Homo sapiens: one gene and its partners. The protein of the gene in region 2 interacts with the protein of the main gene of each other region in a biochemical or structural test. Each region holds a gene or a part of one and is shown on either strand. Other genes may lie near its edges.

The links.
Region 1: the proteins of SET (region 2) and FOXO1 form a complex in vitro, tested with the Homo sapiens proteins (one study listed by BioGRID).
Region 3: the proteins of SET (region 2) and CHRM3 form a complex in vitro, tested with the Homo sapiens proteins (one study listed by BioGRID).
Region 4: the proteins of SET (region 2) and ANP32A form a complex in vitro, tested with the Homo sapiens proteins (2 studies listed by BioGRID).

What each region holds. Positions count from the first base shown.
Region 1 is NC_000013.11:40,554,263-40,558,641, forward strand, and holds the end of FOXO1 (forkhead box protein O1), read right to left. Parts: 3' UTR 1,405-4,379; downstream 1-1,404. UniProt on the Homo sapiens protein: Transcription factor that is the main target of insulin signaling and regulates metabolic homeostasis in response to oxidative stress.
Region 2 is NC_000009.12:128,684,807-128,693,125, forward strand, and holds the start of SET (protein SET), read left to right. Parts: upstream 1-4,415; 5' UTR 4,416-4,776; coding exon 4,777-4,849; intron 4,850-5,167; exon of another isoform or gene 5,168-5,180; coding exon of another isoform or gene 5,181-5,220; intron 5,221-6,363; coding exon 6,364-6,421; intron 6,422-7,051; coding exon 7,052-7,194; intron 7,195-7,855; coding exon 7,856-7,959; intron 7,960-8,061; coding exon 8,062-8,175; intron 8,176-8,319. UniProt on the Homo sapiens protein: Multitasking protein, involved in apoptosis, transcription, nucleosome assembly and histone chaperoning. Isoform 2 anti-apoptotic activity is mediated by inhibition of the GZMA-activated DNase, NME1.
Region 3 is NC_000001.11:239,381,592-239,390,224, forward strand, and holds the start of CHRM3 (muscarinic acetylcholine receptor M3), read left to right. Parts: upstream 1-4,976; 5' UTR 4,977-5,636; intron 5,637-5,649; exon of another isoform or gene 5,650-5,746; intron 5,747-8,633.
Region 4 is NC_000015.10:68,782,251-68,790,154, forward strand, and holds part of ANP32A (acidic leucine-rich nuclear phosphoprotein 32 family member A), read right to left. Parts: intron 5,670-7,904; coding exon 5,520-5,669; intron 5,286-5,519; coding exon 5,163-5,285; intron 2,346-5,162; coding exon 2,147-2,345; intron 804-2,146; coding exon 706-803; intron 1-705. UniProt on the Homo sapiens protein: Multifunctional protein that is involved in the regulation of many processes including tumor suppression, apoptosis, cell cycle progression or transcription. Promotes apoptosis by favouring the activation of caspase-9/CASP9 and allowing apoptosome formation.

The DNA of each region.
Region 1 (4,379 bases), on a different chromosome or scaffold from region 2:
ACCCCAATCCGCTTTTTCCCAATAATTTTCTCAATAAATGTAACTGGTATAATTTAAGTGTTAAACTATTTCTCACCAAAGCAACTTTTATACCAAAACAACAAACTGTAATAAGGAAACCTACCAGGAATATACCTTCATACACCTGGGCCCAGAATGAGCACCACTAGATGATACAAGGTTTGATGTGTACGTGATGATGTCTGCTTCAGAGACTGCCACTTTTAAACATGGTGTATCCAGCGGAACAGCCCTCCACCTACCTTACCTAACCCACCAACCAGTGTAGTGTCATTGTTATAGGTCACCTGAAACATGGAGAAACAATAGCCAAGGCAAAGGTCTTCCAGTGTGGCCGATTCACAGATCAAGAAACAAGCCTAGGTACACATCCTGATTCTACTATCAGCTCTGGTCACATCAAGGGCCTAGATAACTGTCCAAGGAAGGAAGCCTGTCCGGCTACAAAGTCTAACACTGAGCTCCTCCTATGAGGTCTCCCAGGGAAACCTTCCTGCTATATGTTGCTTATCAATTAATGTAAAACTTGGAAACTGGCCTCAAGTAATGACATTGGATGTGCAGTTTTGTATATATGTGCAGAGTTATGAAAGGCTAGCTGGTTAGAGTTCCAGGGTATAAGCAAGGGGTTTTTCCTCATTTGGACTACATCTACAGTTTTCACACTGAACTGTGCATGAGCCCCAGGGGATGGGGGTAGATACTTTCATCTCTTCTATACATTGGGCTTCTGGCTATCACGTCTTTTAAAGAAAGGGTTTCCACTTCCAAAAGTGGGTAAATTTTAAAATACTCTGAAAGTGGGATGGACCCTCAGTGTCTACACAGATAAACAGAATAATCTTTTTCCTTGCTTCTCCAGCTCATTCACTTGTCTGGTCAGAAAGTCAGAAGTTAGGAGAAAGTGGGCTTCACAATGATTTTAAAATGCATCTTAACCATCTTAATCTAATCCTGGCTCATTCCTCAGACATCTTCTGAAAAGAGCAAACATAAACTTCCCACCTACAGCCACTTAAAGGAGGGCTGATCCTCCCCCTTCAGCAAGGTGTGCAGTAGTGACTGGAGGAGCACTTATGACCTTAGCCATGGGGTTCTGCCACTCCATCCACCGCATCTGCTCTGTGACCTCCTAGCCAGACCCTCCTAACTTGCCCTCAAGGTGTTTTTACCTTTAGCAGAGTCTGTTCTAACATAAGACTTAATATGCCTAGTAATTACTGAACCGGATGTACTTTCAGACATTCCAAAGATGAAGTATTCCAGGATTGTTATCAAGGATTGTACTTGTTCCCCATCTCAGGGGACTATAGTTTGGTCCCAGAGGGGCTGTTCCCCTTTTCCTCCAAAGGAAATACCAGATTTGAACCAATGACAACATTGTGGCTGACAAGACTTAACTCAAGTATTTAATAGCTTCACAAAAAATTCCTAATAAAGAGCTTATTCTGCATAATTAGAAAAGAAAGACACCAAGCCATTTAAACATAATTTATGTACATTTATGGCTTTATACAATTATAGCAAAGATTGTTCTTGTGTCTGTAAGTACATCAACATCAGGCACTTCTCAGAGTATCGGAACAAGAACGTGGAATCTGCACTGTTACTAAACTCGGGTAGCGAAATGCAGGAGGCATGACTACGTCCTGATGGGACTTACATGGCCACCCCTGGCCACACTGCCAGGCTGTGCCCACCTCAAGGAGAGGCCAACTGTAATGCCAGGTTGGTCTGTTCGCATAAACCACAATACATTTTTTTTAATGAATGATTATTCCCAAACTAAAACCAGAAAAGAAACTTCTCTTTTAAAATTAGTTATAAATTAAGAACTCTTAGGAGCTTGAATGTAAGAATTTTAAGTTGGGGCTGGGGTTATTGGTAGCATATATCCAGCAGTTGAACAAGTCCAATTTGTATATCGTTGGAGAATGATTTCCATTTTAAGCATCCTTATCCTCTTCTTGGGATGTTCCATTGATTTACTGCTCACTGGGATACATGTGCTCATTTAGACTTTGTCAGTTTGTCAAAGCAGAACTTTCCAAGTAATACATCTATTACCTAAATATATTCCATACGTCTATATTACGGAAACAATACATCTTTATATTTAAAATATCTGAATAGCTCTATAATACAATATGCTTTTAATAACAGTACAAACCAGAGAAAATAAATCAAACAAGGCTGCATAGGTGATATCATTTGCACATTTCACAAAGCAATCATGTACAATAACTGATATATACTCATTACTCCAGAAAGTCAGTATTCTTACAGGAAAAAAACTACCAGAGGCCACATAATGTTTGCTTTCCAGACAGACCAGATGCCTTTCCCTGGACTTCACTGTTCTCAGAGAGCTACCAAGGATTCATGACAGGATTTCAACACACAATGGGGGCTTGGGAGAGGTATAATTACCCAGACTCAGGAGGAAGATATATTTTCCTAAGAGCTACTCCATGAAGTAGTAAGATTTTAACAGTGATTTTGGCTGTAGTTGCCTCTTTAATGAACAAATGGGGGCTCTGAGGTTCCTTGTATTATGATGCAGTAATGGCACGGGAGGAAAGTGACAGTACGTAGTAATAGAAATTAGTACACAAGTACTTTGGCACCAAGTTCAGTTACATACCCGGGAGGCTGTGCTTAGAGGAACTTGGGTTTCTAAAACCAGCTATGTCTTGGACTGCCCCAAAATGAGGATGATAGAGTGGTGGCTGTTCAATGAATCTTCAAAAAAATGATCATCACAGTGGGAAGCTTACAATAGAGCTGGCTTACTGTAGGAAATCTTATCAGGAACACTTGTGTTCTTGTTAAACATTTAGGAAATACCAAGCCAATGAAGATGCAATTAACATACAAGACAAAGCAAGTGTGATGTGGGCTATATACAGAAAAATTAGATCCTTCTCAAGAACACAAGAGGAACAGTGCTGTGCACCTGTTCTCTTCATTGTGATGACTTTGGGCTTTCCACATGACTTGAAAATACTGATGGACTAAATAGGACACAAAGCCAATTAATTTGGTCTGTCAGTTACAGGTAATTGGAAAGTAATAAAACATAATGATAGGAATTACAGTTTAGGTTGCTACAGGCTAAAGAAATTTTCAAATTCTTAAGCCAAGGCTTTTAACATAATCTCAATGCACAACTTACAGCTGGTTTTCAAATAAATCTCCCCAATTTTTAAGTAAGTTCTATTCCATTTGCTACCCATCTGAACTTATGAACACAAATTCTACAAACCACTCAAGTCCCATTTTTAAATTCCCTCCTTCCACTTAAACTTCCACAGTGTGCTAAGTAATCTAATCTGCAGGGCAGAAGGGAGAATGAGATGAAGTATGAGTGTTGACATAATTCCTCAAGGCAGAACTACAAAACCAACCTCCACCTGGACTGAAACAAGAGCAAAGAATTATGAGGGGAAACTTTTGCTAAAGCTCAACTCAAAATGGTGAAGTGGATCAAAATCCCTCGTTTGACAAAGGACCATTGCTTTAGATGCAGATCTCCCTTTTCTGATCTACAAACATTATGAGGCCTCCCAGGACTACAGAGGTCTCTAGAGAAGACTTGATGCTATGCAGTACGCATAGTTCAGTAGAAGCAGATGAAATTTCTTTAAAATACATACATAAAAACATATTAAGTTATCCTAAATAAGAAACGCAAAGTGTCCATAACTATACATCACTTTCCTGCCCAACCAGGGCCTGAAACGTTGAATATGCAAGTACTAATTACAATGATTTAAGATTAGTCAGAAACATCACTAAGTAGCATCCCAAAGTGTACAAACCAGTTAAGCATGTATAAAATTAGTACTAATCCAGTTAGAATACAAAATGAAAATTATGAATGCTGCCCCAAATACCTGTGGTTCCACAAAATTTACAAGCTGACTATGTAACAAAGTAGACTCTAGTTTTAAGAAAACATTATTACAGTTCAATATCTATTCCAAAAATGTTCTTAAGTCCCAACAATAACATCAAAAATCATTTATCTGGAAATTAGAACCATTTAAATGTTTGTACAAATTTGCAAATAACAAAATAAACAAAAAAAAATAGAAAAGACCTGTACAAAGCTGGCATTTAATCTTTTTTTTTCCAAAAGTTTAACAAGTCCATTAATTTAGCAGATTGATAACAGGCTACTTGGTTCTCATGTGAATTCTGTGGCAACGTGAACAGGTCCAAGGCTGTTCAATGGAGATGCAGAATGGAGATTCAGTTCTTTGTGATCCGTCAGTTCCGCAGAAAACAGGTAGTACAAACAAAAGTTTAACTTATCAAGACATGAGGCCCATCACAGTATTACAAAAAGAGTATAA
Region 2 (8,319 bases):
GGAGTTAGGAGTCCCAGAGTCATGCTGCCTCACCCTCTTGTCATTACATTGTAACCAGCAGTTTCATGCCTGCCCTTCCCCCCATTAAACTTAGAGGTGAGGGCTGCATTTTGGGAGACGTAGCTGGAGCTGGATAGAGAGTTGACTGTTCTGGTGACTAGGTCTGGCTCATAGGGGAGGGTTGTGGTGGAGCCTTCCTGGGCTGGGTGTGGATAGGCCCAGGGCCTGCAAGGAAACGGGAAGCTTTGATTGGCTGAGGGCAGGCAACTCTTATGGAAGAAGCACTGAGGAGGAGTCCTACCTCAGGGCTCAGTGTGGACCTGTTGGCACTTTTACTGGGTCTCAGTCCCTTTTCCTCCACATGGGATGCAGAGACCTCCTGCCCAGCTTGAAACCTACCTTGCTGGGTGAGCCACATAAAACAACTTGTGCTTGTTTTCTCTTCTATAAAATGGGATCCACAGTACTGATCTCCAGGCTTGCTGTGAGTCTGAAATCTAAGGGGAGCACTAGACAGCGCCTAGCACATCATCAGTGCTCTAGAGTGCATTTGTGCGCAGCAAAATGTGGGTGAGTCTTCCTAGTTTCCTTCCAGTGAGCTTCCTGGGAGCATTAACAGGACTGGAAGGGATGGAAAGGTGTGAGGGGGTTCATCTAAACCCAAAGAACAGCTCCTGCTGCTTAGTAGGCACTGATGGCATGCCAGAAGCTGTGCCAAGCACTTCTCTATCCTCACAGCCGTATGCTGTGGACATCCCAATTTTACAGATCAGAACAGGAGGCTCAAAGAGATGTGTATGTGTCTGTGGCGGGGGAGATGTTCCAGGCTCTGGAGATTTTTTGGTCTGTGCTTGGGACACTGCAGCACTGTGGGGGAATGCCAGCCTCTCTCTGTTCCAGTCTTTCTGGCGGTGGGGTTCTGTCCTCTTCAAAGGGAGCCGGGGGCCGGGCGCGGTGGCTGACGCCTGTAATCCCAGCACTTTGGGAGGCCGAGGTGGGCAGATCACCTGAGGTCAGAAGTTCAAGACCAGCCTGGCCAACATGGCTAAACCCCATCTCTACCAAAGACAGTTAGCCAGGCGTGACGATGCATGCCTGTAATCCCAGCTACTTGGGGGGCTAAGGCAGGAGAATTGCTTGAACTCCGGAGGCGGAGGTTGCAATGAGCCGAGTTCGTGCCATTGCACTCCAGCCTGGGCGACAAGAACAACAACAACAACAACAAAAAAAAAAACAACCAGAGGGGCCAGGAGGAGAGGAGAGAGGCAAGGGAGGAATTCTGAGTGAGGGGAGAGGCCAAGAAGAGAGAATGCAGAGCTTCTGGTGTTGGAGACGGGGAGAGAGCAGAGTCCTAAGAGTGGGTGAATAACCTCTCAGTGTGCCCCCGGCTCGCCTGTGTTTACTCACACCCCTGGCCCTTTTGCTTTCTCTTTCTCTTCAACTTCCTAGTGTGCTCATATTTATCTTGAGAAGCACTGTGTGGGGAAGGGCAGGAAAAGAGGGGCAGGGAGGTGGCAGGGAGGGTTGGGAGGCCAGAAAGGGAACCTGAAAGCCCACTCCCCCATCAGAAGGCATTACAGGGTTCCCTGGGACCCCTGCAGGTGCTTGGGAAACAGGCAGATAAGGCACTTAGGAGACATTGTGGGTCAGGAGTGACCCTATGGGTCAGGCTTTGAGGATGGAAGCAGCCAGCCCTTGGCATAGTGTTCTCAGACAGACTCAGCCCAGGAGCGGGTCGTGAAATCAATTTGGTGGGGTGTGACCTGCATTTTAAATAGGAAATTAGAATCACATCACCCTTGGTAAGGGTAAGTTTTGGTTTGTGTGTGCTAGGTCATGATGTCAAAAGTACTTCTGACTGTTGGTCACATTAAAAAAACTGAGGCAGGGTGCGATGGCTAACTCTTGTAATCCCAGAGCTCTGGAAGGCTGAGGCTGAAGGATGGTTTGAGCTCAGGAGTTTGAGACCAGCCTGGGCAACATGGTGATACCTCCTCTCTACAAAAGATAAAAACAAAATTAGCCAGGCAAGGTGGCAGTGGTGCTTGCCTGTGGTCCCAGCTACTCAGAAGGCTGAGGTGTAAGAATCCCCAGAGCCCAGGAGGTCAAGGCTGCAGTGAGCCATGGTTCTGGGCGACAGAGAGAGACCCTGTCTCATAATAATAACAACAATAAAAATAGAAAAACTGTTTTAAGGTAAGGGCTTTGTCAATTGCTACTTGGTTTAGAATCTTGGTTCTGTCACTTGCAACAAAGTTTAGTTTATGCTAGGCACAGTGGGTGGCTCATGCCTGTAGTCCCAGCACTTTGGGAGGCCGAGGTGGGCAGATCACCTGAGGTCGGGAGTTCGAGACCAGCCTGGCCAACATGGTGAAACCCCGTCTCTACTAAAAAATACAAAAATTAGCTTGGCATGGTAGTGGGCGCCTGTAATCCCAGATACTCGGGAGGCTAAGACACTCACCGTGCACTGTCTTGAACATGAAAGATGCTGCTTGAGCTTTAAGAGCTGATAGTGGGCCGAGCTCAGTGGCTCATGCCTGTAATCTCAGCACTTTGGGAGGCAGAGGCAGGTGGATCACCTGAGGTCAGGAGTTTGAGACCAGTCTGGCCAACATGGTGAAAACCTGTCTCTACCAAAAAATACAAAAATTAGCAGGGCGTGGTGACTCACATCTGTAATCCTAGCAACTCAGGATGCTGAGGCAGGAGAATCACTTGAACCCGGGAGGCGGAGGTTGCAGTGAGCTGAGATGGCACCACTGCACTCCAGCCTGGAAGACAGAATGAGACTTGGTCCCCTCCCCCACCAAAAAAAAAAAAAAAAAAAAAGAGCCAATGGTAAAGTGTGAGTTCTGGAAGGCAGAATTCCAACCCCAAGTTCTGGTTAAAAATGTCCAAAGAGAGATTTCAGGTATTTTTTTGTTTTTGTTTTAGAGATAGGGTCTTGCTCTGTCACTCAGGCTTCAGTGCAGTGGCTGCATTGGGGCTCATTGAAGCCTGGAATTCCTGGGCCCAAGCGATCCTCCTGCCTTGGCCTCCCAAAGTGTTGGGATAACAGGAGTGAGCTATTGCATGGCCAGGATTTGAAATTGGCCAGCGTATCACTAAAATCAACAAATGGTACTGGCCGGGCGCAGTGGCTCCCGCCTGTAATCCCAGCACTTTGGGAGGACGAGGTGAGTGGATCACCCCAGGTCAGTAGACCAGCCTGGCCAAGGTGGTGAAACTCCATCTCTACTAAAAATACAAAAATTAGCCGGGCATGGTGGCACGTGCCTGTAGCCCCAGCTACTCGGGAGGCCGAGGCAGGAGAATTGCTTGAACCCGAGAGGCAGAGCTTGCAGTGAGCCAAGATTGCGCCACTGCACTCCAGCCTGGGGGACAGAGCAAGACTCCCGTCTCAAAACAAACAAACAAATGCTACTAATCAGGGTTTTTCTGGCTTTTTATGGTTCATGTCTTGGGGTGCTGGAGGGACAGAATGTGGGGCATCCGCATTACTTGAAAAGTATTATTTAAACAAAATGCTTTGGCCCTCCTTAGTGGTTCAGAACTTTGCCTCTCAAGTAGAACTTGTTGGCCCCTTTCATCTCTATGAACAGAACACCGCCTATCGCTTGGGGCTGTTGTGAGGCCTCGGTGAGATAACCGTGCCATGCGCTGCTGAAACTGGCACTTAACGCTCAGTATGATTCTTGCGGGCGCTGGGCACCGCGGACTAATGTGGTACCTCCCTGCCTTCACAGGACTTCGAGTTTAATGTGGCTTCAGTGTCGTAACCTTTATCATTTCATAACAGAAACGGGTTCAGAGAGGAAGGGTGACTTGCTCAAGGGTACAAGCTTGCTGGGCAGGGCTTGGACTAAAACCCAGGAATGGCCCTGCGCGCGGATTACACAGCCTGGGGCTTCGCACACGAGCCCGAGTTTGAGTCCGATCGGCAGTTCCCCATCTGGCATCCAGAATGGGGTGCCCCCTGCTTTCTCCACGAAGTGGAAGGCGCCGAGAGGCCGGGCGGAATTCGGGGCCCCCATACGAGGCCGGGCCTGCACTTTCGGGGTGGTGGGCGCCCCGCTCCCGGTGCCCCGCGGAGCAGGGAAGCCGCTCGCTCACCACGTGACGCGCCGGCCGGGGGCACCCGCGCCTCCGTGCGACGCCCCGCCCACCGGCCTGCCGCGCGCCAGTGTCCTGGGTCGGGCCGGAGAGGGGAGAGCGGGGGAGGGGACGCGGCGCGGGGGGCGGCCGTGCGTCGCCGCGCGCCTTCCTCCCACCTCTCGCCGGGCCCTGTGTCTCCGCGCCGCGACTCCGCCCCCTCATCCCGCCGCCCAGGCCAATGGCGCCGCGGCGCGAGCCTCCCCGGCCGGAGGCGGAGCATCCGCGCGGGGCCTGGCGCGCCTGCGCCCTGCGCCCGCCCCTCGCCGTAGGAGGAGGTGGAGGAGGAGGCGGCTCGGGAGAGCGAGCAGCGAGCTGGCTGGATCGCCGAGCGCGAGTGAGGGAGCCGAGCCGCCCGCCGCCGCCGCCTCCGCCTCCCCTCCGCGAACAGGAGCCCGGGCCGGGGCCCGGCACGCCGCCCCAGCCCGTCCCTCGGCGTCAGGCCGCGAGGGTAGCGCGCGCGAGCGAGCGAGGGGGAGGGAGAGCGAGCGAGCGCCGGGAGGAGGCGGCCGGACCGAGCGGGCGCCCGCGCGTGTGGCGTGAGGGGAAGCCGCTTGCCCGCCCCCTTCGCCTTCCCTTCTCTCCCCCTCCCCGCTCCCCCCCCGACCGCGGAGCAGCACCATGTCGGCGCCGGCGGCCAAAGTCAGTAAAAAGGAGCTCAACTCCAACCACGACGGGGCCGACGAGACCTCAGGTGAGAGCAGCGAGCCCGGGGGCCGGCCCGCGCCGCCATCTTCGCCGCCCGCCCCGGCCCGCAGGCCGCCGGCGGGGCCCGGGGCGCGCGCGGGGGGCGCCGGGCGGGGGGGCGCGGCGCGGCCGGGCGGGGGCCCGCGGACTCGGCGCCCTTTTTTGTGCGCGGCTGGGCTGGGGGCCTGGGTGGCCCGCGCCGCGGCGGCCGCGCTGCGAGGCGGGGGCGCTGCGGCCTGCTCGGCGCGGGCGGAGGAGACCCCCCCTTCCTCTCCCCCCTCCCTCGCTCTCCTCCCCCTCCCTCCCTCCCGAGAAGCCTCTCTTTATTGTGCTCCGCCATGATGCCTCGCTCCCATCAGCCGCCGCCGCCGCCACATGGTGCGGCCGGACGCGGCCCCGCGCCCGACCTCCCGCGCGGTTCCGCTTCGCGCCCGGCCCGCGGCGGCGCCCCCGGCACCCCCGCCCAGAGGCTGGCCCCGGCGGGGCTTCTGCCTGGAGCTCGGGTGGGGTGGGGGCGCGGGGAACACGCGGGCGGCCGCGCGCTGGGCCTTGGCCGGCCGGGAGGATGCTCTGGCCAGCCCGGGCGCACTCCCCACGTGGGGCGGCCGCCCCGTCGCGCCAGCGTGCGGAGAAACCTGGCGCCGCGACCAGTGTATCGGGGGTCTTGGAAATGGCTAAGAAAGCTGGCCTCTGCCTAGGAGGCTCTCGGCAGGGGGGCTGCCAATCCGGGATGGTTACCGGAAATGAACCGCGCGATCTGGCCCTTTCACACCCACTTAGCTTTGTAGGGGGTTTGTAGTCTTTACAGGACAAAAGGGCACCTATTCCAGAGCACACCCCCTTTTCTTCCTCTCCCTTCTGTGCCTCACTGCTTTCCGATCTCATAGTTGCTCCCAGTAAGTGCTCCAAAGTCGTGTGGGGCCGCATCTGAGGTCTGCCCGCCTGAATTGGGTTGGAGGGGTTCATGTTCTGAGAAGGCGAAGGCCAGGGTGTAGGATGGTGCCCCGTGACTTTCCAGTCTTTGTAGGCGTGCCTGGTATCTTCATCGTAATAGCAGAGTCGTCAACTTTCTATGAAAGGTGGTTTTACCTTGATAGGTGGTAGTGGTGGCCTAATTTGTATCATTGTCATGGGTTTAGTTTCCATATTCTAGTTAGCAGCTGCTACTGTTCTCTTGCAAGTGTATAATGTGAAATAATAAACGTGAAGACTTCTGAATAAGGTTATTCTGTGTCTTTCATAGTAGAAACCTTAATGATCGGTCTGTTGTAGTGAAACTCTTTAAAAAGGCGCTATAGAAAACCAATTTCTGAGTAAACCAGCAGACAGCATGACTTGTAAATGGTCTTTTAATTAATTAAAAAGAAATTAGTCAGCTACAAGCATGAACATGTGGAACGCTTGCCTTTGTACTAGGCGTTTTTGTTTTTGTTTTAATGGCTTTTGGAATATTATAGTATTAACATCTGGAAAACTAGGTAAATTTATCTTAGAATTAAGTTTTTTGCTCCTTTTTTGCAGAAAAAGAACAGCAAGAAGCGATTGAACACATTGATGAAGTACAAAATGAAATAGACAGGTAACATTTTTCTTAATATACTTCGGAGAAATTTTCTGAGATGTGTCTAATAGCCCGGTAATTATCGAAGCTATGGTCAAATCTATCCACTGTCAAAGGGGAAATGATTCTAACTTGGTTGGAAATACTTATGTAGATTCAGTGTTTTTTGGTGAAGTGATTGTACAGAAGTTTTTGAAAGTGCATTGACCTTACAAGGTTTGGGTTTGCTTTCAAAGACTGAAAATTGTCTGAATTGCAGTGTAGGTCTTCTGATGGTTTAGCAGTGTGGCATCAGTGGTTGCTCTAACTTGCCTTACAACTTTGTTATGGATTAGCCACTTTATTTAGAAATCGCGCTTGAGGGAAACAATTGAAATTGGACTGGAAATGGAGTGGGCGAAGTAAATACACACGTTACCAGAGTGTTGAGTTTGGGCACTCTTAACAGTCATTATTACTCAGTGTTTATTGATAAATCAGACAAAATTGCCATCTTAGTTTTGAGTGTCTAAATTAGGTGATAATGGTTATTATAATTTGGTTATTTTGCATGACTCAAGCTAGTAAGTAAATACACTCTGTAATCTCAACCAATTTTTTAATTTGTTAAATACTATCATTGTCAACATCTCTTTTCATTTGCTTCAGACTTAATGAACAAGCCAGTGAGGAGATTTTGAAAGTAGAACAGAAATATAACAAACTCCGCCAACCATTTTTTCAGAAGAGGTCAGAATTGATCGCCAAAATCCCAAATTTTTGGGTAACAACATTTGTCAACCATCCACAAGGTATGTTTTGGACAGGGCATTGTTAAAGGATAAACAGTGTTTGTTAGAATGGAGGAAGCTTGGTGAAGACTTAGTCCAGCATGCTGGGTTGCGTGCAACAAAGACAGGCTGGGTGCGGTGGCGCACCTGTAATCCCAGCACTTTGGGAGGCCGAGGTGGGTGGATCACTTGAGGTCAGGGGTTCGAAACCAGCTTGGCCAACAGGTTGAAACCCCGTCTCTACTAAAAATACAAAAAAAATTAGCTGGGCGTGGTGGCGCGCGCTTGTAATCCCAGCTACTCGCTACTTGGGAGGCTGAGGCAGGAGAATCGCTTGAACCCAGGAGGGGGAGGTTGCAGTGAGCCGAGATTGTGCGCTTTTGCATTCCAGCCTGGGCGACAAGAGTGAGACTGTTTCAAAAAAAAAAAAAAAAAAAAAAAAACCTCAAAGACGGGAAAAGATATACAGCTACTGCTTTCTATTCTGTTTAGGAGAAGCTATATTCTAATTGCTTGATGAAAGATAGTGACAGTCTGATATTGAGCAATTGCCTTTAGTTAATAATGGGTTTATAAAACCAAAGATGCTCACTAAGTTCGGAAAAATTTTAAAGGGATCACTTAAATTGTTGTTAGTGTGTGCCTGTTGAAAATTCAGCTGACCTGTAATTTTCTGGCCTAGTGTCTGCACTGCTTGGGGAGGAAGATGAAGAGGCACTGCATTATTTGACCAGAGTTGAAGTGACAGAATTTGAAGATATTAAATCAGGTTACAGAATAGATTTTGTAAGTATCTCTAACTTAATCTTGTTTGCCACTGTGGAAATTAATGTGAGCTTTGGTTGGAAGACCTGTTCATATTTCTAATCTTTCAATTATTTATTACAGTATTTTGATGAAAATCCTTACTTTGAAAATAAAGTTCTCTCCAAAGAATTTCATCTGAATGAGAGTGGTGATCCATCTTCGAAGTCCACCGAAATCAAATGGAAATCTGGAAAGGTATGTTTTGAGGAATTATTTGACAAAAATAGCATTTTGCCTATTTCAGTTTAGTTTTAACCACTTACAAGTGCTTGATACTTTGGTCATGTGGCTAAATACAAAACCTTAAAATATAAAACGTTCCAGTGTGCTGAAGCCAAG
Region 3 (8,633 bases), on a different chromosome or scaffold from region 2:
GTTATTGACTGATTTGATGGCTGCTAAGATTAAAATAAAAGTGTGGGTTTATATCTGGACTTTCTATTATTTTCCATTGGTCTATTTTACTTTCATTCTGACAATACCATAATATCTTGATTTCTGTAGCCTTATAATAAGTTTGGAAATCTGATAGTAAGTCTAAACATCCAATTTTATTCTTCAATAATGTTTTATCTTGGTTCCTCGTATATACATAAAAATTTCAGAATCAGCTTATTAATTTACACACACACACACAGCCATTTATATTTAATGTAATGAATAACACAGTTGAGTTTTAAATTTACTATCTTATTATCATTTTCTCTTTGCCCTATCTGTTCTTTGTTCATTAATTCCTCTTTTCCTGCATTCTTTTACCTCAGTCAGGTATGGTTTATAATTCAATTTTATTTTCTGTATTACCTTTTTTGTTGTGCGTTTTGATGTCATTCTTTCATTGGTTACACTTAAAACATCATCCTTAACACTGTTACCTTAAATTATCAAACGCAAGGATCTTATATTTATCCTTTTAAGGCTGTTATTCTATATTTGACTTTAATAAACAGTATAAGCCCCACAAGATACTCTTATTCTTTATGTGTCAAACAGTTAGTCTTTTATAAATTCTCAATCATTTACCCTTTCTGGGGCTGTTTATTCTTGCTTACATTTCTGTGATTCAATGTGAGACTATGTCCCTTCAGCTTGAAGAATAACCCTGAGTAAATTCTGTAGTTTATAGTCAGCTAACAATGAAGTCTCTCAGTTTTTGTCAGTCTAAATCTTTTTCATTTTTCGATTCTTTTCAATGGACACAGAATTCTGGTTTGATAGTTTTTATTTGTTTCTTTCTGTACCTGAAATATATTTATTATCTTCTACCTTCCATGATATTTCTGCTGAAATCAATGTTCATTTATATTGTTCCCCCAAAGGTGATTTTTTTAAACCTCTGGTTGTTTTTAAATTTTCTTTTTCGTCTTTCAGCAATTTGACTCTCATAGGCCTAGATGGGGTTTTCTTTGCCTGGGGTTCATTGAGCTTCTTGAATTTCTTGGTTGATATCTGTATTAGTTCATTTTCATGCTGCTGATAAAAACATGCCCGAGACTGGGCAATTTGCAAAAGAAAGAGGTTTATTGGACTTACTTCCACGTAGCTGGGGAGGCCTCACAATCATGGTGGAAAGTAAAGGGCACATCTCACATGGCAACAGACAAGAGAAGAGAGCTTGTGCAGGGAAATTCCCATTATTAAAACCATCAGATCTCATGAGACTTATTCACTGTCATGAGAACAGTACGGGAAAGACCTACATGATTCAATTATCTCCCTCCCACAACATGTGGGAATTATGGGAGCTACAAGATGAGATTTCGATGTGGACAAAGCCAAACCATATCAATACCTTTCGAGTTCTTCACCATGATTTTTTCAAATGTTGTTTCTGCTAGTCTCTCTCTCTCTCTCTCTCTCTCTCTCTCTCTCTCTTCTTTCTGCTCTCTCTGGATATTTTCTATTGATTTCTATATGAGACCATCAGTTTATTTGTGTAGTATCCAGGTGGTTTTTAAACCTATGTAATTACTTCTTGATTTAGCAATTCAACAAAGTTCATTTTATTATTTTTATGAAACCTAATATCCTGCTGAAATGCTCTGTTTTTTAATCCATTTTGCCCATCTCCACGGTAGTTCATGGTTATTTAAAAGCCCTTGCCTATTAGTTCCAAAATCTGTGTCATTTCTTGAGCTCTATTGACTGTATTTTCTTTCTTTCTTTCTTTCTTTCTTTCTTTCTTTCTTTCTTTCTTTCTTTCTCTCTTTCTTTCTTTCTTTTTTTGCCATCAGGTACTCTTTTCTGCTTCTTTGCATGTCTGGTAAGTTTTGATTGCATGCAGCATTTGTAGAAATTTTAGCTTATGTTTTCTTCCTCTCATAAACTTTGAGTTGTGTTCTAGCAGGTGGTTAAATCATTGGTAGATCACCCTAACCCTACAGAAGCCTAGTTTTTGCTTCGTTCAGTCAAATCTATTTCAGTTTATTCTTTCTCTTAGGACATCATCCTTCTATCTAAGGAGTATCCTTCAAGGGTTTCATCCTAATGCCTGAGGTGTTCACCAAAGTCTTTCCATTCTGACTGGAACCGAACTCCAACATCTCCTCAGAATTGTGTGATCTCTAAAATGTCCACTCAAATTTCAGCCTCTCTGCCACTGCACTGTATCTGTCAGGTCTCTAGAATAATGCCTCTGGACACATGCAGCCTAGCAATTCAGCTAACGAACTGAGAGGAATTGCCACACAGACTTCCGGTGCTGCCTCTTGGTACTCACCTCTCTGTCACCTTGCTTACCTCCAGAAACCTTAGTTACTTTATATAGCTCCAAGCTCTTGAGCTATATGCCCTCTGCTCAGTGAAACTGCAGCTCTCTGCTTATTCTCAACCTCCCAAAACTTCTGCTGAAAAAAATATCCCCTGAGGAAAAATAATCCATGGGAATGGGCTCATTCCATGTGCCTCCAGTTACCCCAAATTGCAGCACTATGTTGGTTATGGTTCAGAAGTAAAAAATGTTTGATATAGTTTTTCCAGGTTTTATAGCTATTTTATGGTAGAAAGGCAAGTGAGTGCTATTAGCTAATTGTCCAGAACCAGAGTCTCATTTCATAACTGCATAAATCCTTTGCTTATCTTGTGTATTTTTTTAAACAAACCTAAAATGCAGGATTTCTAAGTATTTTCCAGTTCTAGCTGATTTCCTTCATTTTAGATGAAAATCCAAAGGTAAATACTCTTTGGTTTCTGATTTTTGGCATCTTGTAAATAAGCATTGCCTCCAGTTTGGTTCATTCTCAGATCTATTAAGTATCCCATTTATATTTTCCTCTGAAATATAATTTGATAAATCTGCTGAATGATCGGGCACCAAGGTCAGGACCAATACCTTATTCAAGCCCAGCATGAATCCACTTACCAAGAAACTGGAGGCAACTCTGTCTAAACTGTAATTTGTTTGATACAAACATGCCATCTACATTTACCTTGTCCATAATGATAATGGGAAGGTTAGCTGAAATCAGGAAATACTGTATTATGAGTTTAGTGACTATTTACAAGTGGAAATGAATTTAATCTGGTATGATTTATTTTACTAAATTGTAGTTGCTTCCTTTTCTTTTCTCACTAGTCACAAATGATTTATTTCAGTATCTTCTCCAGAACATTGCCAGAGGCCAGTCTCAAACTTAACCATTGTATACATACCAGAATATTTTCATTAAAAATTAATAACTTTTGTCTTTCTCTGAAAACTACATAATCACTACTTGTCCATTCTTTTGGTCCTTGCCTGTTCTTTATGGATCAATATTATCAAAGCTACTCCTGTTTCCACAGGCAAATAACAATTCTATGTAATGGGAAAGATATTAAATCCGAATTCATGTTCCTCTTACTAGCTATATAATGGACAATTAAATTATTCCTTTAAATTCCTTTCTCCTTTAGTACACAAGGATAAAATACTCATTTGATTGTTTTAAAGATTAAAGAAGTATCTGAAAGTAACTGTTATATTTTCTTCTGAGAGGTATCCCAATAAAAAGGCTACAATATTGTTATTATTATTACTATTCTAGTATCCTGGATGCAATTTACCTAAGCCTAGATATTTTAATTAATTTAAGTAGCCACATGCTTTCTCACTAGCTATTTTCCCAGCATGATCTCAATCTTTTCTACGCAAAGTTTAGTCTCTTCTCTCCTAAAGATTGTTCTACCTAGAGAAGAATATAGGTTCAGAAAGGAATTCATATACTGGTGTTTCTCTAATCTCTTAGAATTACTTAATTTTTCAAAGAGCTCTATCTTTTCCTATTTATCTTCTTGTTCCAAATAGAATTAAAATCATTTGCTGCCTTTAATATTGTTAAATATTTCATTTCATACTATGCTTCAATTTCTTGCTTTTTTCTTCTTTTTATCTTCCTCCTTCCTTCCTTTTTCTTTCTTTTCTTCTTTTTCAGTTATCATTGTTATGCTTGTCCTTTCTTGTGAGATTCCTCTGTTATCTTTCCTTATGTGCTTTTTAAACAAAACCTCGAGAGTGCCGTGGGACAGCCTCATTGGTATCTTTTCAAATTTGGTATCTCTCCACTTTTTCCTTACATAGTTAGCTGGCAGTAGTACATAATAACCTTTTCTGTCTCTCTCTCTTTCTTTCTTTCTTTCTTTCTTTCTTTCTTTCTTTCTTTCTTAGATTTTCATTCCTCTTGAGCTTTAAAAGACTGGCTAGCAATGTTATATCTTTCATTTTATTTTCTGATTTAAAAAAGTGTGTGTGTGTGTGTGTGTGTGTGTGTGTGTGTGTGTGTGTGTACGCGCGCGCGCGCGCGCGTGCACGTCAGTGTCTTCTTCATGGATGCTTGTCTTATTTTCTCCCAAGGTGTAACTGTCCAGGGAGGGAAAAGTCAAGTCGTCCTCTATTACACTGCTCTGCAGAAACAGACTCACTAAATGTCAAAAAGTAGATGCATCAGACTGTTCCTTAGAGAAAGGTTTGCCATGGAGTCGTATATTGTAACTGAGCTGAAGTTCACTCATCGATAAGTTGTGCCCAAGGAATCGAATTCCTTCCAGTCCTTCTAAGCAGTCCAGGGAAACCAATTTAAAAGCGAACACAACAAAACTAACAGACCGGCAAAATCTATCTTTGAAGCGCCGCGGGAGGCACAATTTGGGAACAGGTGAGGCCATGCTGGGTGGGTGAGGCCCCCCTCTCTCCTGCTTGGTGTTCCGCTTTCAGCCAACCCACCCCAGGAGTACCCTGGGATCTCCTCGCCCCCTGCCAGGCGGAGAACGCGGAGCCCAGCGGGCACGCGGGAATGGAGCTAGGCGCCGGCAGGGCAACTGGGCATGCTCAGAAGCCGGGCAGGTTTTGGTCTCAAGCACGCAGCCTGTGCATTACACCAGCTCTCTCAGTCCGGGGAGGAGGAGGAGCAGGAGGAACGCGAGGAGGAAGGAGAGGAGGAGCGGCCAGCAGTAGCCACGACCGCCACCACCAGGCAGAGGAAGAGTTCGTGGGGAGGAAAAGACCTCTCCTCCCCCTTGGAGCGCCTTCTCTCTGCTTTTGGAGAAAGGGAATACACGATAAAGAAGGAGACGGAAAGAAGAGAAAAAGTGAGGCGGGAGACAGAGGGAAAAGGGCGTGAACAGAAAGGGCCGGAGCGTGCAGGGGAGCACAGGGCGCGGGGGCGGCACTGCCGAGCCGGGAGCGCTGCCGCTTGGGCAGGTGCCGCGGCCGCTGCCCGGAGGCGGCATGTGACGCGCGGCCGCAGCTGCCCGCGGGCGGAGCGCTCTCAGACCCCGGAGCGCACACCGCGGGGCCATCGGTGCCATCGCGGATCTCCAGGCTCCTCATCAGTCCGCCGGGGCCGCAGCAGCGCTTCTGGGAAGACGGGCGATGAACTGAAGGGCGGCTCCGGGCAGGGGGGCACGATCTTAAGGACAGTCGCTCCCTGAACGCGGAGCCGGAGGAGACGAAGGGAAGGTGGAGCGGACGCCACCCGCGCACCGGGCAGGCGCGGAGACCGGCGTGGGACAGCCACCTGGAGCGCAGCTGCCAGGTAGGGACGGCGCCCGCCACCCAGGCGCTGGGCAGAGCGGGTGGCGGTAGCGGCTGACCTGGTTTCTTGCCTTATCTCGTTGCGAAAGGAGGAAAAAGTTTTCGGCGCGGGTAGGAGAGGTCTTGTGTTTGGAGTCCAAAGAAGGGGCTGGGTAGGGACGAGAGAGGCTGTTGATTTGGGGAAGATGGGGGCACTTGAATTCCGACAGCGCGATCTGGTGCGGAGTTGGAGTTCTGGGACTGAGGGTGGGGAACGCCCGCTGGCACTCAAGTGCCCCGAAAGGGACGGGAATCATGCGAGCGGTGGCCGGGAGAGAGTCGGGGACGTCCCACCCCGCTCTCCCTCGCTTCGATTCTCTCTTCGCCACTGCCGGATCTGAGGCTCCAAAGTGCCCGAGCATGAGGAGCTACTGGGCTCCGGGTGTGTTTGTGAGCGCACTCGTGTGTTGAGCGTTTGTCTCCCATCTCCCCATTTGGTTTCCTGTCATTTCTAAGAAGGCTAAAGCTGGCACCCGCCAACCTCGCAGTGGGGCCGCAAGTTCGGATTGCATTTCAGGGGGCGAGAAGGCAAATTTGGCACTTCGAGTAACACTTGGGCGAAGGTACCTAGCCTAGTGCGCATCTTTACTGACCCGGGGAGAGTCTGCACTCGCGAGGCAGCGGCCGCTGGACTGCACCGGTTCTCCTCTTTGGAACACTTCCTCAGCATAGCCTCCTAATAGCGAGGTTAATTTTTGCGTGTTTTTAAACGGCGGGGGCGGGCGGACAGTTGACTCCAGCAGCAGAATTCACTTGTCTACTTCGCGGTGTGCGTGCTGGAATTGAGATCCTGTTCTGCATGCTTGTGCGTGTGTCCGACTCTCCTTGCACGCATTTGGAAGTGGTAGAGGCAGCAGGGATTTGGGAACTGCATCCATATGGATAGGTTTCAAGAATGCAAACCTTCATTTGTCTGCAAGTGTTACTGGAACCTGTCCAAAGGCTGCAAGGATATGTCCCCTCGATCCCCGCCAGTGTCCGTGTTTGCAATGTGAAAGGGCGGCCCTCTTTAGGACAAAAATGTATTTATCAAAGCGATGTGTGGTTAAGAACACTGGTTATTTCACCATATGCTTTGCACAGACTTTTCCTTTCTCTCTTGCCCTCTGAGTTCCAAGACAGATAACCTGTCCCCTCCCCCCATTTTGACCTTTGTAGGTTACTATTTGAAAAATAATTTTTAACTGGGTGCAGTGATTATATAGTCCAGATAATTTCATATTGTGAGATCGTTATATCGCATGAACCATTCATCATTATTTCCTGTGTTTAAAACAATGCCCATGTATTTACTTAAGAGAGACTATGAACATATAGTTCAGAAAGGGGAAAACTAAACCTAGAGCAGATACCTGCATATAAGCGTATTGTAGTGGTAGCACGTTAATAAAAAACTAAGGTATTTCTGTTCCAAATATTGTGGGATAGACGAGGTGTTGAGTGCACCCTCTTGTTATAAGAGCTGATATCCCGAAGTATACATGTGCAAGGAACATGCCTGCTTCTTCAGTGTGCATTCCAACATGCCACAGAAATGTGGTTTACATCATAGCTTCTACCGCCGAATAGTCTATCTTTAGATTTTGTTTACATGGTTTGTCTCAATTAGCTTAATACATAATTAGCTATTGTTGGGCTAGAAAGCACGTTATTTTTGTAGTGGTTTCCATATGGAAATATAACGTTCGCTTAATTACTAATTTAAAAATAATGACATTGCCGGTCGGATTTAGAATGTTTCTCTAGGTTGGGGGGTATTATGAGATCGAATGTAGCACGAAAATAGCAATGTCGAAATATTGTTTTTTAAATAACGTTGCGTCATTAATCGAATGAACATGACAGTTGAAAAAGAAAATGAGATAAAAAGTAGACTTTGAAAAATCTTTATAAATTTTCTGTGTGGAAAATTATTGTAAGGGAAAAATGTAATTTGGGAAAAGGAGCAAATGTGGAATTGGTCAAGTTTTAAAGAAAGAACAAGTGTTATAATGAGTAGTTCTGTATTAAACCTACATTTAAGCTTATTTAGGAAAGTTTGCTTTAAAATTTAGAGAAATCTATGATGAATATTCAGTACCCTACTTTTATTCTGGGGTAGGGGGAAGTAAAATGTCACTTCAAAAGTATTATTTACTTCTGAAGATTATTTAGGCATGTGTAAAAGTTCTTTAGAGTGTACCTTCTCATTTTTTCCTTATAAAGACAAATGATTTAATTTCTTAACAAAGAAAATTTGTTATAAATTAGAGTATGTAAAAATGTGAAGTTCTTTTAATGATATTTTAGCCTTTAATTGCAGGCAACCTGTTGAAAGAGGGCATGGAAAAAATGTGAAATTGGCAGACATAGAATTTCTTAGATTCACACTTGTAAATTGAATAGACAGAAAGTTAAACGATATGGTTAAAAGCAAAGTTGCCTTATGTATTTGTAAATTATAAAGTAATACATATTTTCAGATTTTTAGTTAAAATCTCTGTCATTTTCCCAGCCAACATATTGTTCTTGCCTAATAACTTTGTTAACATTGGCAAGCTCAGTTGCTTACTGCTAAATGGCCTGGACGATTCCAGTGTGACTATTAAGAAATTGGGTCTTGTTTGCAGTGCCGGGAAGTTTATACTGGGAACAGCTGTGGTGTAGTGGCACTTTAGATAGGAGATGAATGAACCGTGAATCATATGAAGATGGAGACTGATCAGTATGCAGAGAAGTGTATCTGTCCTTCACTTATGGAACCTGATTTTATATCATATGATGACTAATAGCATTATTCTCACAGTGTGATTTTGGAGGATCAGTGAGTAACTAGAGATGTTGTCTTTTATGTTTGTGAATTTAAAATGTATTCTCCTTACATAAGACTATTGTAAAAGGTATCTATGAGCTTAATAAAATTGTAATCAAATCCCTCTACCACGTTTACTTTTAAAAGTTAATCAGCATAATAAAATGT
Region 4 (7,904 bases), on a different chromosome or scaffold from region 2:
AGTCAGACACTTACCCCTTGTCAGACACTGTCCTTAAGCATTTTACTTACACTTCACTTTATCCTCTTAACAACCCTGTGAGAAAGCTATCATGATCCCTATTTTACAGATGAAGAAATAGGCTCAGAAAGGTCAGGTAAATTGTCTGGGGACACACAGCTTGCGAGTGGTAGAGCTGGGACTCACCCCCTCACAGATCTTGTTAAAAAACTGGGAACCAGCCAATCTCTTTAGGAAAATGGCCAACTCCTGGTGCTCTATTTCCATAGTGTCACTCTCTGATTTGGGATCCAGCAGTGTTATCCTGCTACCTATCAGTTCAAGGCAGACTTTGGTTTTCCCTAGCACAGTTTAAGTGCTCAATGAATATCTTAATTAGCATATGAAAGCAAAAAGCAGAAAATGGGGCCATGCATTCTGTACTTCTTCACATAGAAACAACGGCCAGGCTTACCCCAGCAGGTTCAGTCCCTGCCTCTAAAATCCTCTTCCCCTCTTCTAATCCAGCCTCCCCAGAGCTTACTGCAAGTCTTGTCTCCCCAGAAACAGCCCAGTGAAAGGCTCTGAAATGGACTCACTTCACTACCCATCGGGGAGCGACTTTCCTAACCAGGGCTCCGGGGCTGCCAAGACTGATCACAGAGGCAGTCAGTGGGACTGCCTCAAAGGGGCAGACGGTGGCCCTGCCCAGCCCAGCCTCCTTACCTCCTCCTCTCCACTCACGTCCTCCTCTTCACCTTCCTCCTCCTCATCCTCGTCCTCCTCGTCTTCCACTACCTGAGCATCTTCATCATACTCCTCCTCTGTGCAATCGAAATGGGGAACGGAAACAGAACTAGTGGTGAGCTGGCTCCGCCCCCCACACAGCACAGGCCCCTTGTAGCGTCTTCAGTGTGGGGCTCATGACCCTCCCACACCCACCTAAGTCCAAAGATGGAACACACTAACTCTCATGAAAACAGTGCTGACATAATTAAACACATCCTGAAGTTGTGCCAAAGATAAGCCCCCCTCACAAGTGTTATGCATGTGAAAGGCCCCTTCTGGAGGCCTCTCACACCGAGACCACCAGGAAATTGTCAGAGCACAGCAACAGGTTCCAGGGCCCGGGAAAGCGGCAAGATCAAATCAAACTCCTCAGGTTAAAGGTGAGAGATCTGAGGCACAGAGAGAACTGACTTGTTCAAGGTCACGCATCGAGTCACTAGTTGAGCTGGGCCTAGGGGACCTGGTCCCGGGACTGCCAGTTTTGGCTCCTTTCTGCCATATCACAAGATCCCCACCAAGGCAAACATGGTCTCTGAGTATCTTGCAAAACACTCCCAATTGAACAAAGAAAACCAAAATCCTGTATCTGAATTAATTAATCAGGCAAGTGTCTCCATTCTCAACTTTATCTGGCCACGAAGATGCATGGGAAAGCTGCACTGTGCTGGTGGCAAGGGAGAAGGGGAGGGAACAGGACTCCCTTCTTTTCCCTCCTTCCTTCCTGTAGGCCTCGACTACACACCACACTGCCAGGGAACCCAACAAGTGGCCTGCAGTCCTCCACTTCTGAGCACCTGGGGCTCCTGAGCACCTGAGCCTGTGCCCCTAGGTGTGGGGCTGTAGGCTGCAACCACCAGGGGGCCCCACAACCCCTCTAGCTCTGGACCTCCTCTCCACTACTGAATACCTAGATGGGAAAGAGGGGTCCTCAGGCCACACACTCTTCTCTCTCTATCCCCTCCCTCCCTCCCTGGGAGAGTGTCTAAGTGCGGGTCACACTACAGAAAGACTGTAGAATCCCACTCCCTGGGGGCTTTGGAAAAGGGACAAAAATTGAAGTGGGGATTCAGTTGGATGGTTTTAAAGGAGTTATTATGCAGTTGGAGAATCTCAGGATATTTCCATGAGCATGGGACTCATGCTTTGTTCTTTTAGGGAAGTCAACCAATGAGACAGATTAGGGACTATGGAAAACAAAGCAGACAGCCCTACTCCCCTCCATAGCTTTGGAAGGTGGTAGCTACCAGACAGACAGCCAGCCTTCAGTAGCTGGGTGGGGGCCTCCCAACACCCAGCCCACCCACCTCTGCAAAGCCAAGGACGAGCCCCAAGGCCTCAGCTGGGCCCCTGCAGCCCTGGGCCGCACCCTGTCACCCACCATCCTCATCCTCCTCCTCATCATCCAGGCCCTCCACGTAGCCCTCAGCATCCGAGTCAGGGGCCTCCTTGTCGTCCCGGTCATAGCCGTCGAGATATGTGAGTTGCGGGAGGAGCTTGAACACATTTTCTCGGTAGTCGTTCAGGTTGGTTACCTCGCAATTGAAAAGGTCTAAGCTCTTGAGGTTTTCTAACTTTTTCTGCAAGCGGAAAAATGAAGCCAACAGTAAGTGATTTGTGGGAGGAAGGTGGAGGAACAGCCCTAGCAAACAGGCAAGGATGCCATGAGATAGCATGCGCAGACCATGACTTCCAGGTGATAAGGAAGCTTGGATTTGGCTCTGCTTAGCCACAGTGTTTGCCCAGACATATCACCTGCAGTTTGTGGGCCTCGGCGTCTCCATCTGGAAAATGGGGGGTTGGACTGGAGGATCTTTGAAGCCTTATCCAATGTTAACACTTTTATTCTGCAATTACAGCTTCTGTCTTAACAGTGATTGACTTGAAATTAGCCTGGGGCTTTCTTGGTGCATGAGCCAAGAGGTTTACTGCCTCTCCCTGAGACTAAGGAGCCAGAGGGAAACCAAAAGTCAACTTGAACTAACAAACTAACTCCTTCTGCATCTGATAATGATGATGATAAGGGCGGTTAACATGGCACTTCATGTACTGAGTCACTTTATCTCACAACCCCTGTAAGGTAGAAATAATTATTAGTTAATTTCACATATGTGGAAATGGAGGGCACAGGATTTGGTAATTCATCAGGCAGCCCAACTTCAGACCTGTGCTCTTACTCTTTGAATATTGCCTGTCAAAAAAGGACAAGAGAAAAAGCAATGGAGGACCCCAATTCTGTCCATGGTATTTGACACGATGTGCTCTGTCAAAGCTTTACACCAGACGGGTTCTAGCCAATGTTATCCCTGTTTGATGGTAGAGGAAACTGAGGCCCAGGAAGTGAAGGGTCATACTGCTTGCAAGTAACTGAGCTACATTTTGACTTCCCACCTCACCCACCTTTGAGGCACCAGGTACAAAAAAATCCCATCCCAGGCTGAGTCCCCATTCCAAAGGTGGCCAGGTCTAACAAGGGAGTGAAACCATTGCTCCTTGGAGTCAATGTCGGGAGCTAGGTTGCTCTCTCTATGACCTTGCAGTTGAGACCTGGGTCATTCTCAGCAGAAGCCAAGGGCAGGGAGGAAGTCTTGACAGTGGTCTGTGTGGGCAAGCCCAGCACCTGCTACCAAAAGCAGCTTCCCGCCCCAGGACGGTAAGGCAACACACACTGACAAGCAGGGGCGGAGAAAGCACTGAGACACGTGTGATCTGGGCAGGGGGCAGTGGAGAGTGTGAACATGAACGTGCCTGAGTGCCTGACCCCTAATGGTGACTGAATCACAATGTTTTACAAGGATTTTATATACTCAATCCCCATACCTCACCCATATACAGAACTTCAAAGACTTTTTCCTTTTGTAATGACATTATAAAATCAAGACTTCCAGACAGATCAAAATAGTTTGGCTTTTTCCTAGGAGACCAGTGAAAGGCCTGAAAAGAAGTTCTGTGGGAAGCACATTCTACTAGTTGGCCCCAATGCCATCGATGGACAGGTAAAGAGCTTGGAAAAGAAATGCCAGTGTCCTCTTCTGCCACACTGGCCACCAGCAAGTCCCGTGAGCATCCATGGAGAGCAAGGAGTGCCTTTTGGGACAGAAACCCTGAAAACTCCAGCCCAATCTGAGGGATACCCAACCTCCCCTATAAACCCAGAAGGGAAATTTGGCAAACGTGGCCAATTGTCCTCCTGGCCTTTCCCTGATTCTAAGATGCCTGAGGTGCTGCTGCTGCTGCTTTTTTTTTTTTTTTTTTTTTTTTGGAGACAGAGTCTCACTCTGTCACCCAGGCTGGAGTGCAGTGACGCGATCTCAGCTCATTGCAACCTCTGCCTTCCAGGTTCAAGAGATTCTCCTGCCTCGGCCTCCCGAGTGGCTGGGACTACAGGCGTGTGCCACCACGCCGGGCTAATTTTTGTATTTTTAGTACAGATGGGGTGTCACCATGTTGGCCAGGCTGGTCTCAAACTCTTGACCTCAGGTGATCCACCTGCCTTGCCCTCTCAAAGTGCTGGGATTAAAGGTGTGAGATACCACGCCCGGCCTTATGAGGTGACTCTTATATGTATATTCACAACAGGTGTATTTACTTCATGTGGTAGTATTTCCTATTCCAAAAGAGTTGTTTTCAGTGACACATCTTACAGCTGATTTCCTTAAAATCAAAGGAATACAGCGAATCAGATCCTGGTAATTATAGAAAGTGTTGTTCTGAACATGACCTGCCCCTTTCTGGCTGGTAAATCAGTGAAGCTTAGGGGATGTCTATCTCTACAAGGATGAGCAGAGGAGCCAGAAATGCTACCCAGGCCCCTGAGAGCCTGTTCACTATCGCAACAAGGACTGGTGACCAGGGGTCACTCTTCTCCACACCACGTTGAGGAAGGCCTGCCTGCACGAGGCTCTCACACCACACGGCTCTCAGTCATTCCAGGGTTCTATGTCAGGACTGACTCATTTCTCACAGTTCAGGGGCCAGCGACCCAAGGAGAAAACTGGAGTCCACCTCCAGGGCCAGTTTAATTCTTGGATTGCTCCTCCCTTCCCAAAAAGGGGCAACAAGCCATGCCCTGAACCTGAAGACATTACAGCTCAGGTTTCCAAAGCTGAGCAGAAACTGAGTGGAAAAGCAGGAGACCAGAAATTGAAACTAGGGTTCTACGCTACCCGTACAATAGCTGCCCATTCTGTCTGTGACCTTGGTCAAGGTATTTAACTTCTCTGGGCCTCAGTTTCTCTATGGACTCAGCAGAAACAATAGCTCAATTCTATCTCATAGCACATCATGAGAGTCAAAAAAATTAAGTGGGAAAAGGACAAATGCAAAAGTAGTATTTGCTGATGCCAATTCCTCCCACCTCCTACCCCTGCAGGGAGGGGAGGGTCCGAATGACTTACCAGTGGCTCTATTGTGCTGAGGTCTTTAATTTTGTTGCCACTTAAATTTAGATGCGTGAGGTTCGGACACTTTTCTGCCAATACTTCCAGGCCCCCTGAGACTCTGTTATCGCTTAGTTCAAGCTAAATAAGGCAGGGAAAGAAAAAGCAGAAACAGCTTTTAAAATGAAGGCTACCGGCTCAGAGCTGCCCGGCTTTCCCCAGACGGGCAAGAAGGGAAAGCAGTCTCAGGCAATTGTCTGGCATGTTGGTGCAAGCACCCGGCTTTCCCTTCAATTACTCTTTCTAAACATAGGTAATAACCCTTCCCACTCCCCACCCCCGCCTCCCAGCACACACAGACTCCACTCTATTTACCTTCTTAAGTTTGTTTAACTTTGGTAAGTTTGCGATTGAGGTGAGGCCTACGTTGATTGTACTTAAGAATTCCAGTTCTTCAAATTCATCTGTGAGGCCTTCGAGTTTGCCTTCATTCGACCGACTGTTGTCCAGGACAAGTTCTTTCACCTGAAAGAAGGCCCGACCGTGTGAGCGGGGCTGAGGAATGGGGCTGAAGCAGGGGGAGGGTGTTAGAGGACTCCTCAGAGAACAGGGAGACAGACGCAGGAAGCAGTCAGTCACTCCGTCACTTCTTCTAGCTTTCCGGATCACTGTGCTGCCAACGACCACAGGATGGATTTGCCCACCCTGACTTTTCTGCCTTTTCAACATCTGGGTGAGAGGAGGCCTGTGGTGAGCCGAGCTGCAGAACCAGGGGGCCACTCCAGACAGGGGCCTTGGCTGTACCGCAGAAGACAAACCCAGTAAGCCCTGCTGCCTCTGCAAGGTTGGTGGTCTCATTCCAACCCTGCTCTCGCATTCTCCCAAAACCCACATGCACCAGCCACAGCATTGTTAGGGACTTCTGGGCCTTGCCCCGCCACCCCAATGCCCCCACAAGACCCCCACATGCCCAGTTGCTTTCACCCACTCCTGCCATCACAGCAGAGCCTGCCGCTGTAGCTGGCATTCACATGGCAGTACCCATGTGGCCTGTCCTGAGGCAGGCGCAGCAGACCAGGGGCTCCTCCAGCTCTCCCACCTCTAGCCCAGCACTGTCCAACAGAACTTCCTTCAAGGACGGAAACGGTCTGTACTGTTCAAGACAGGGGCCACTAGTCACATGTGGCCACGGAGTGCGGCCAGTGAGACTAAGGAATAGAGCTTTTAATTCTATTTAATTTCAATTAATTTAAGTGTAAACAGACACAGGTAACTACTATATTGGATAGCACAGCTCTAGACTTTGCTCTTCACGGTCCAGCATAGACGTGGAAGGAGAATGGAAACCCACAAACTTAGGATGGGCCCATAATGAAATGCTGAGATCTGTCTCAAAGTCTGTGCTTGGAGGCACCTCTGTGGCCCTGTCTTTTTCCCCACTCAGCTCCCTTACCCACAATTTGGGTCCTAAATCCTTTATTTCTAATGAGGTAGAAAGAACGAATAAAAAGCCACCCTCTCACAGGGTTGTTAAGAGGTAGACTTAGCTGAAGGTGAAACTGCAGGTTCTAATGAAGAAGGTAGAAAGACAGGCCGAGGAAAAGTAACCAGGTCGCAGGCATGAAATGACCCTGGGAGTAAGCAAAGGAGACCCGGTGTGTGGCCCTCCAGGCAGCTGGCCCAGAGTTCTCCTTCCTGCCCCAGAGCAGCCAGCTTCTGGGAAACCCGGCCTCTCTGGACTGGAAGACACCTTAAATGTGATCCCTGCCCACACCTGGTATCTCAAAGAGTCCCTTCAGCCCAGGACACAGCAGCCCAAGCTCCCTGCAGGTGCCAGGAAACACTTACCAATGTCAACTGGATTTGTTGCCTCCCTCCCTGGAACTTCCATGCACAGGCCCTGATTTCTCACCAATGGGTCACATGGCACAAGCCTTCCTTCTCAACAGCAGTCCAGCATTGTTCAAAGGGTTGCTCCTGCCCCTCAGGGCCTTTTCTTCTCTTGGATAAGCAGCCAGGCTTTCTAACCTGTCCCTGTCCAGGGCTGCTCCTGCTCCTTTGAGCAGGCCAACATGCCTAGCTTCTTCTTTCTGGGCCCAGAATGACTAGGTGCCCCTCTTACTCAGGCATCTCTGGGCCAAGTAGAGATATGGGGGAAAGGAGGTGGAAACAGAGTCCACATGAGGCCTGCTATGCCCCTCCTCAGCCCCCTCTTGCCAGTGGGCAGAGCAGGGGAGCACTGGGGTACACATCTGGATCTCAGAGTCCTGCAGGGCCCTGCAACTGCCCTGCCTTCATTCTTCACTGGTGGGTGGAGGCATGCCACTCCGCCCGGGACAGCAGCAATTTGTGGGTTTCATCTAGCACAGCCCACAGAGCAGGAGAACCAGGGAGCGCAGCCCTCTCCTGGAGCTAAGGAGCTCTCAGCCTAGGAAATGGTCACCAAAGCCCACCTTCCTGTTGGGTCTGGGAGGGGGAGGCTCAGTCCTTTCCCACCCCCTCAGTCCCTGAGATCCAGATGTCCAGGTCAAGCCACCTTCTCAAGGTCATGGCAAGAGTGCCTGGGAATAAATCCTGTGAGGCCTTCTGCCCTAGGGCAGGAAAGCATCGCAGAGCCAGGAAGCCAGGCCTTAGGGGGCCAGTGCAGATGGAGGGAGAGTAACTGTGTTGGGGGAGGGGAGCCATCTCCTTCGTTTGCAGTAAACACTGGAGTCACGTGGCCCACAGTCTTCTTTAGTAATTGGTTTCCTTGGAAGGCCT